2 linked regions of the Homo sapiens genome follow. The protein of the gene in region 1 interacts with the protein of each later gene in a biochemical or structural test. Each region holds a gene or a part of one and is shown in the gene's direction. Other genes may lie near its edges. The genes, in order: GTF2F2 and DYNLT2B.

Region 1 (3,821 bases):
TCAGGAGTTCCAGGCCAGCCTGGCCAACATGGTGAAACCCCGTCTCTACCAAAAATACAAAAAATTAGCCAGGCGTAGTGGCGGGCACCTGTAATCCCAGCTACTCGGGAGGCTGAGGCAGGAGAATCACTTGAACCCAGGAGGTGGGGGTTGCAGTGAGCTGAGATCATGCCACTGCACTCCAGCCTGGGCAACAAGAGCAAAACTCTGTCTCAAAAAAAAAAAAAAGAGAATGCCTGTGTTTTAGAGTGAGCATGTTGAATTGATGCTTTTATTTCCTTTGCTGTTTGCATATAGATCGAATATGAAAGGAAAAAGAAAGAAGACGGAAAGCGAGCTCGAGCTGATAAACAACATGTTTTAGACATGCTATTTTCAGCCTTTGAGAAACATCAATACTATAATCTTAAGGACTTGGTGGACATCACAAAGCAACCTGTGGTATGTATATGTTCATACTGATCCTTTGAATATGCCCTCCTTCATTAACACGACATTACTGAAAGTGTGTCATACATGATTTAGTTCACATTTACCTATGCTAATGACTAATTTTATGACAACACTCAGAAAAGATGTCTTAATGCAGCCATTTTTGGTAACATCAGCTTTTATTTTACATTTTAGTACTCTTAATAATTATTTATGAAGAAAAGAAATTATCCTCATGTTCATTTATTCTTGACATTAAGCCTGAAATCTGTTGATACCATTTCTGGTCTTTATTTTGTTTCCCTATCTTCCTCTGAGAAAGTTTAACTCCTTCCCTTTTTTTGGAAAACATGCCTCATAGAAAAATCGCATTCTTTAAAGAATTATACTGTTTTGTCATTGTGGGAGGGTTTATCCCTGTCTTGTGAATTGTTTTCTGTGGATTTTTTTTTTTTTTTTTTTTAATTAGAATCTGTGTAGGTCCTTTTAAACCTGAACTGAACTGCACTTTCAAATTATGCTTGCAGAGATTGTGATTAGGTTGGCCTGTTCCCCATTTTTAAGGACAAATTTAACAAATTCGTATTTTAGAAAGTTTATGTTTGTTTTATAGTCATTTTTATCTCTTCTCTAGGCTTTTGTGCATTTACTAGTAATTTGCATTAATAATCCATTTAAAATGATGATAACAATAAGAAATTCAAATTCTTTTTCTAGTCTTTGAGTCACATTGTTTTCCATTTAACTTTCTCCACCACATGTCACCAAAGTATCAGACTGAGTATTTACTTATAGGTTTAAGAAAATTGAATGGAAACCCTTTTATCTCATTTCCTTTACCATTTTGTCTACTCTGCCGGTATACTCAAGAATCTGTTGATTCTTGCTGCTCCATTTATTGGATTCAGAATATGTAACAATAACCAATTTTAAAAAACATCTTAACATAACCAAATAACCTATTTGTGAAAGGACTTGATTTTTTTTATTTATACAAAGCTTTAGGAAATGATTTATGAAATTTTAATGTTCATTATACAGTTTCTCCTGCAGATATTTCTTTACTATTATACATCAACCCTTGCCTTTTGTTAAGAAATTAATTTGAATTCCAAAAGATTTACTTTTTAATAAGAAGAAAGTGCTCATGGTGGAGTATTATCAATTCATCCCAATGACTTCACTCCCTTTGGCATCAAAGCCTTAGAAACAGCATTCTAAGCTAGATTAAAAATTTTTTTTGAAATAGAATAAATAACTCATTAGCTAAGCTGTGTTTCTTCTGGTTTTAATGAAATTTATCTTTGTATTTATATATATAAATATATCTGTATGAAAAGACCCTTCCAGAAACTCTGAAAACAGACGAGATTCTCATGGAATTAAACACAAAAAATTAGATATGGAAAATAATCACTTGTAGAGGGGCATTCAGATGATACTAGGGAAAGCAGTTTCTTTGCCTTCACATGGGATATAAGGTTTATTCATTTTGCATCAAAGAACAAGTATTACTAGTGTGTCTTTTGGTTTTGGTTCTTAAGATATTTTTTATATGGTAGTACTCAGTGAATCTCTTACAACAGAGCTTCTTAATTCCTAACCAGTGGATGGACTTAAGGGGATCCATTAACTTCCTGAAAATCTGCAAAAATGTATGAATTGTTCTGGGGAACATATCATCCATAGTTTGTATCAGATTCTCATAGAAGCCGCTGATCTCAAAACTAACTTTTTAAATAATAGTTTTATTATTTAGAGACTAAATTGCCTCAATAAGCATAAGATTCCTGAAGGCAGAGTTGTATGCTATTCCTATCCCTAAATATTCATATACCCCATAGTGTAAAAGATGGTAAAAATTCAGCAAATATCTCATGAATTGATTTGAAAAAAGAAAATCCTCAGTCTCCAAGGGCCACCATATTTTCTTCAGATGGATTTTGGCAGGCCTCTCACGTCATTTATAGTGAGGTTGGGGCAAAGAGCCAGTGCCAAGAAAGTGTGGAATGCCTTCCCCAGGCTGGGGGTAGGCCAGAGGTAGTTACCTCCTCCTAGAGGAGAGGGCAGGAAGTGGTCAGCATGGATTCCAGTCCATTGACTGGGAAAGAAAGTTGCCAAAGTCTAGCTCTCCCCCAAGTAGGCAACTATCCCCCTTTAAAAGGATTCGAGGACATAAGTGAATCTGTACTAATGGTCATCAGTACCCAAGAGACTTGAGGAATCTATTCTAGCATGAAGATCAATGGTCCAGGAAAGGGGGTGTTCTGGTATAATGGAAAGAACCTGGATTTGGAGTATGAGATCCTAGTTCAAGTCCCAGCTCTACCATTTAGCCAAATAGTCCTGGACAAGGTACTTAAATACATTTAATACATTACTTATATTTAGTTCACTTAACATATGTAATAATATAAAATTTACCAATATGTTCAAATTATAATTTATTTTGGGGGTGGGGTGTTTTGTTTGTTTGTTTTTGAGATGGAGTTTTGCTCTTGTTGCCCAGGCTGGAGTGCAATGGCACAATCTCTGCTCACTGCAACCTCCACCTCCCGAGTTCAAGCGATTCTCCTGCCTCAGCCTCCTGAGTAGCTGGGATTATAGGCGCCCACCACCACACCTGGCTAATTTTTGGATTTTTAGTAGAGATGAGGTTTCACCATGTTGACAAGGCTGGTCTTGAACTCCTGACCTCAGGTGATCTACATGCCTCAGCCTCCCGAAGTGCTGAGATTACACGTGAGCTACCGTTCCTGGCCAAAACCTTCATTTCTATAAGTAAAATTATTGGCTAGAGAAACTTTGCTTAGGGCCCGTCTTTTTCTCTTGTTTGCCAGTATGTGACTTACATAAGCAACTAGAAAGAGTGAAAGTTACTCATCAAGGAGGCCAAGCTTTGGTAACTGATATAAAGTCGGGGACATAGTATCCATTTAAAGATATATTATCTTAGTCTGTTTTTTGTTACTTATAACAGAATACCTGAAGCTGGGCAATTTTTAAAGCAAAATAATTTGTTTCTTAAAATTTTGGAGGCTGAGAAGTCCAGGATCAAAGGGCCACGTCTGGTAAGAGGCTTTTTACATCGCTTAGTGAGGAGGCTGAGCGTGCTAGCTCAGGTCTCTCTTCCTCTCCCTCTTTTTATAAAGCCACCAATTTCACTCCCATGATAACCCATTAATCTATGAATGGGCAGAACCCCCATGACCTAGTCACCTCTCAAAGGCCCAATTCTTACTACTGCCACATTGAGAATTAAGTTTAACATGAGTGTTAGAAGGGACAGATATACAAACCACAGCAGGTATTTTTATATGGTTTAACTTCTGGATTTTTCCCCCCTCAAAAATAGAAAATTACAGGAGGCCTATTATTTCTCCCTGATA
Region 2 (3,843 bases), on another chromosome or scaffold:
TTTTAGCTCTAAAATTCTATGGTCTCACCAAGGTTTTATTTTTATTTTTATTATTTTTTGAGACAGAATTTTGCTCTTGTTGCCCAGGATGGAGTGCAATGGCACAATCTCAGCTCACCACAACCTCCACCTCCCGGGTTGAAGTGTCCTGCCTCAGCCTTCCGAGTAGCTGGGATTACAGGCATGCACCACCACACCTGGCTAATTTTGTAATTTTAGTAGAGACAGGGTTTCTCCATGTCGGTTAGGTTGGTCTGGAGCTCCCGACCTCAGGTGATCGGCCCGCCTCGGCCTCCCAGAGTTCTGGGATTATAGGCGTGAGCCACTGCGCCCAGCCCCACCAAAGTTTTATTTTATGCTTAACTACCCTAGGGATCAGGGGCTGGACAGTGGGAAGTACTATGTAAATCTTAATTTATCAGCTATCTTTGGGGGAATAGTCAAGCTAAGAAGATGGTTTTTTTTGCCAGGCACGGTGGCTCATGCCTGTAATCCCAGCACTCTGGGAGGCCGAGGCGGGCGGATCATGAGGTCAAGAGATTGAGACCATCCTGGCCAACATGCTGAAACCCCGTCTCTACTAAAAATACAAAAATTAGCCAGGTGTGGTGTTGGGTGCCTGTAATCCCAGCTACTCGGGAGGCTGAGGCAGGAGAATTGCTTGAACCTGGGAGGCAGAGGTTGCAGTGAGGCGAGATTGTGCCACTGTACTCCAGCCTGGAGACAGAGCGAGACTCTGTCTCAAAAAAAAAAAAAAAAATGCATCTTGTTTGTTTGTTTTGAGACGGAGTCTCACTCTGTCACCTAGGCTGGAGAGTGGTGGTGCCATCACGGCTCACTGCAACCTCTGCCTCCCAGGTTCAAGTAATTCTCCTGCCCCAGCCTCCCGAGTAGCTGGGACTACAGGTGCATGCCACCACGCTCGGCTAATTTTTGTATTTTTTAGTAGAGACAAGGTTTCACTATTTGGTCAGGCTGGTCTCCAACTCCTGACCTCAGGTGATCTGCCTGCTTTGGCCTCCCAAAGTGCTGGGATTACAGGCATGAGCCACTGGGCCTGGCCAAAAAATGCATCTTTAGATGATACAATTCATTCATTCAACAAATAGTTCTGAGCTCCTATTATGTGTCAGCTTCTGCACCTGAGGGGCTAGGGACAAAATGATGAATAAGACAGGCATGGTTTCTGCCTATTAACATCCAGTGGGGGCCACTCAATACTCAAATGAACAAATATGTAATAAAAAACTTTAGGCTGGGTGTGGTGGCTCACGCCTGTAATCCCAGCACTCTGGGAGGCCGAGGCGGGTGGATCACCTGAGGTCAGGAGTTCAAGACCAGCCTGGCCAACATGGTGAAACCCCATCTCTACTAAAAATACAAAAACTAGCCGGGCAAGGTGGCGGGCGCCTGTAGTCCCAGCTACTTGGGAGGCTGAGGCAGGAGAATTGCTTGAACCCAGAGGGCGGAGGTTGCAGTGAGCCAAGATTGTGCCACTGCACTCCAGCCTGGGCGAGAGGGCAAGACTCTGTCTCAAAAAAAAAGCACTTTATTTGGGAGATTCCAGGAAACATTAGTAGAGGCAGAGGAAATGAGAAAGGAGGGAAAATCATGTGGTATTGAGCGGAAAACTGCTGGATGACAGGGCTCAGTCCTGTTGGAGAACTCTGGGTGGTGCTGTAGAACAGGGCCACTCACAGTGGGGTGCACAGACCAGCACGGCTCTGTGACCTGTTTGTTACAGGTCCATGATGAGGTAAACAATACACTGAGTATAAGGGTTGGTTTAGAAACTCTTACAGCAATTTGACAAAGTAATCTTCTGTGCAGTGAATCTAAGAAAAAAATTGGGGCTGTATTTGTATGTTCCTTTTTTTCATTTCATGTTCTGAGTTACCTATTTTTATTGCATTTTACAAAAGCATCCTTCCATGAAGGACCGGAAGTTAAAAACAAAGCAGGTCCTTTATCACAGCACTGTCGTAGAACACAGTTCAGAGTTATCCACCCAAGGAGCCAGGGAGCTGGGCTAAACCAAAGAATTTTGCTTTTGGTTAATCATCAGGTACTTGAGTTGGAATTGTTTTAATCCCATCATTACCAGGCTGGAGGTGAGGTTAGTGGTGCAGGAGTTGCTGAGGCAGGTGGAAATCTTGTAATAAATGCCTAAAAATGTTTTAAGCAATTTGACTGGGCTCTGGAAAGCATTTTGTGATTCTGAACTAAAAGATGGACAAGTAAATTTTATCAATTAAGAACAAACACCCAGAGACTATTTCTCTTATCCAGAATTTATGACAAGGTCCTGTTGTTCTTATTATCAGTGATACTTATAATATGGTTTCTTGGGATGAGTAATGGAGTTTACTCCAAGAAACTCAAAGCATTTCATACATTATTTCTGTGATAAATCAGGAAATATGTGAATAATTATTTTATGAATATGTATTACCTAAAGTTCATTAGTTCACATTTTATTTTTGCATTCAGAAAATCTAATTCTTTACCCATCCTAACCTTTTAGCAAGCAATTTTGTAGTCACCCTCAGGCAAGCAATAGTGTAGCTATACTCTGGAAACCCTTCACTTCTTGAAGAAGGAAAAAGTCTTCCTGATTGAAAATTGGTGGCTGGGTGAGGTGGCTCACGCCTATGATCCCAGCACTTTTGGAGACCAACATGGGTGGATTGCTTGATCCCAGGAGTTCAAGAACAGCCTGGGCAACATAGTGAGACCTCATCTTTACAAAAAATAAACAAAATTAGCCTGGTATGGTGGCAGGCACCTGTGGTCCTAGCTACTCTGGAGGCTGAGGTAGAAGGATTGCCTGAGTGTAGGAGGTCGAGGCTGCAGTGAGCTGAGATCACACCACTGCACTCCAGCCTGGGTGATAGAGTGACACCCTGTCTCAAAAAAGAAAAAAAAAATTGGAAAGATCTGAGATGGTGTTAGTTTCAGTTGCCTGTGCTGCTCTCATTCCCTCTTTAGTACTAACATTCTGGATGTGTGTGTGTGTTGTATTTATTTTTTAGGACAGTTTATTCTGCGTTGTAGCAGCATTTGGCTGTTTCTACTACTGAATGAATCTTTGAAAAGCTGGTAAAAGACATGACCATGAAGAAATCTGAACTTTTTAATATTGTTAAATATCTTGACAAAATAAAGATGTTAGTAGTTTGACAACTGAATCTGTTGTGTTTTAGGCCTTATATTTTTAATGTTTTGATTTTGTTACACTATGTTCTGTTTCTTTCTTTCCTTCCTTCTTTCTTTCCTTCCTTCCTCTCTCTCTCTCTGTCTCTCTCTCTCTCTCCCTCTCTCTCTCTTTCTCTCTTTCTTTCTTTTTTTTTTTGAGACAGAGTCTCTCTCTGTCGCCCAGGCTGGAGTGCAGTGGCACAATCTCGGCCCACTGCAACCTCCGCCTCTTGGGTTCAAGTGATTCTTCTGCCTCAGCCTCCCAAGTAGCTGGGACTACAGGCAAGTGCCACCACGCTTGGCTAATTTTTGTATTTTTACTAGAGACGGGGTTTCACCATATTGGCCAGACTGGTCTCAAACTCCTGACCTCATGATCCATCCATTTCAGCCTCCCAAAGTGTTGGGATTACAGGTGTGAACTACTGCGCCCGGCCCTACTATATTCTTGTTACACTGGAACACAGAGAAAAAAGTAGGGGAAAAGCCATTTCAATTGTTCAAACATAACCAATGGTAAAAATTTTGGTATATTTTCTACCAATGTTTTTTATTTCCAAGGTTTAAAAAACATATAATTTTGTACCCTCATTTTTCATTTCTCATGATGTTATGAACAGTTTTTATGTCATTTTATTTGCATTATGA

The links.
Region 2: the proteins of GTF2F2 (region 1) and DYNLT2B form a complex in vitro, tested with the Homo sapiens proteins (one study listed by BioGRID).

The regions. Positions count from the first base shown.
Region 1 is NC_000013.11:45,266,936-45,270,756, forward strand, and holds part of GTF2F2 (general transcription factor IIF subunit 2), read left to right. Parts: intron 1-297; coding exon 298-441; intron 442-3,821. UniProt on the Homo sapiens protein: TFIIF is a general transcription initiation factor that binds to RNA polymerase II and helps to recruit it to the initiation complex in collaboration with TFIIB.
Region 2 is NC_000003.12:196,290,564-196,294,406, reverse strand, and holds the end of DYNLT2B (dynein light chain Tctex-type protein 2B), read left to right. Parts: intron 1-3,032; coding exon 3,033-3,080; coding exon of another isoform or gene 3,081-3,103; 3' UTR 3,104-3,188; downstream 3,189-3,843. UniProt on the Homo sapiens protein: Acts as one of several non-catalytic accessory components of the cytoplasmic dynein 2 complex (dynein-2 complex), a motor protein complex that drives the movement of cargos along microtubules within cilia and flagella in concert with the intraflagellar transport (IFT) system.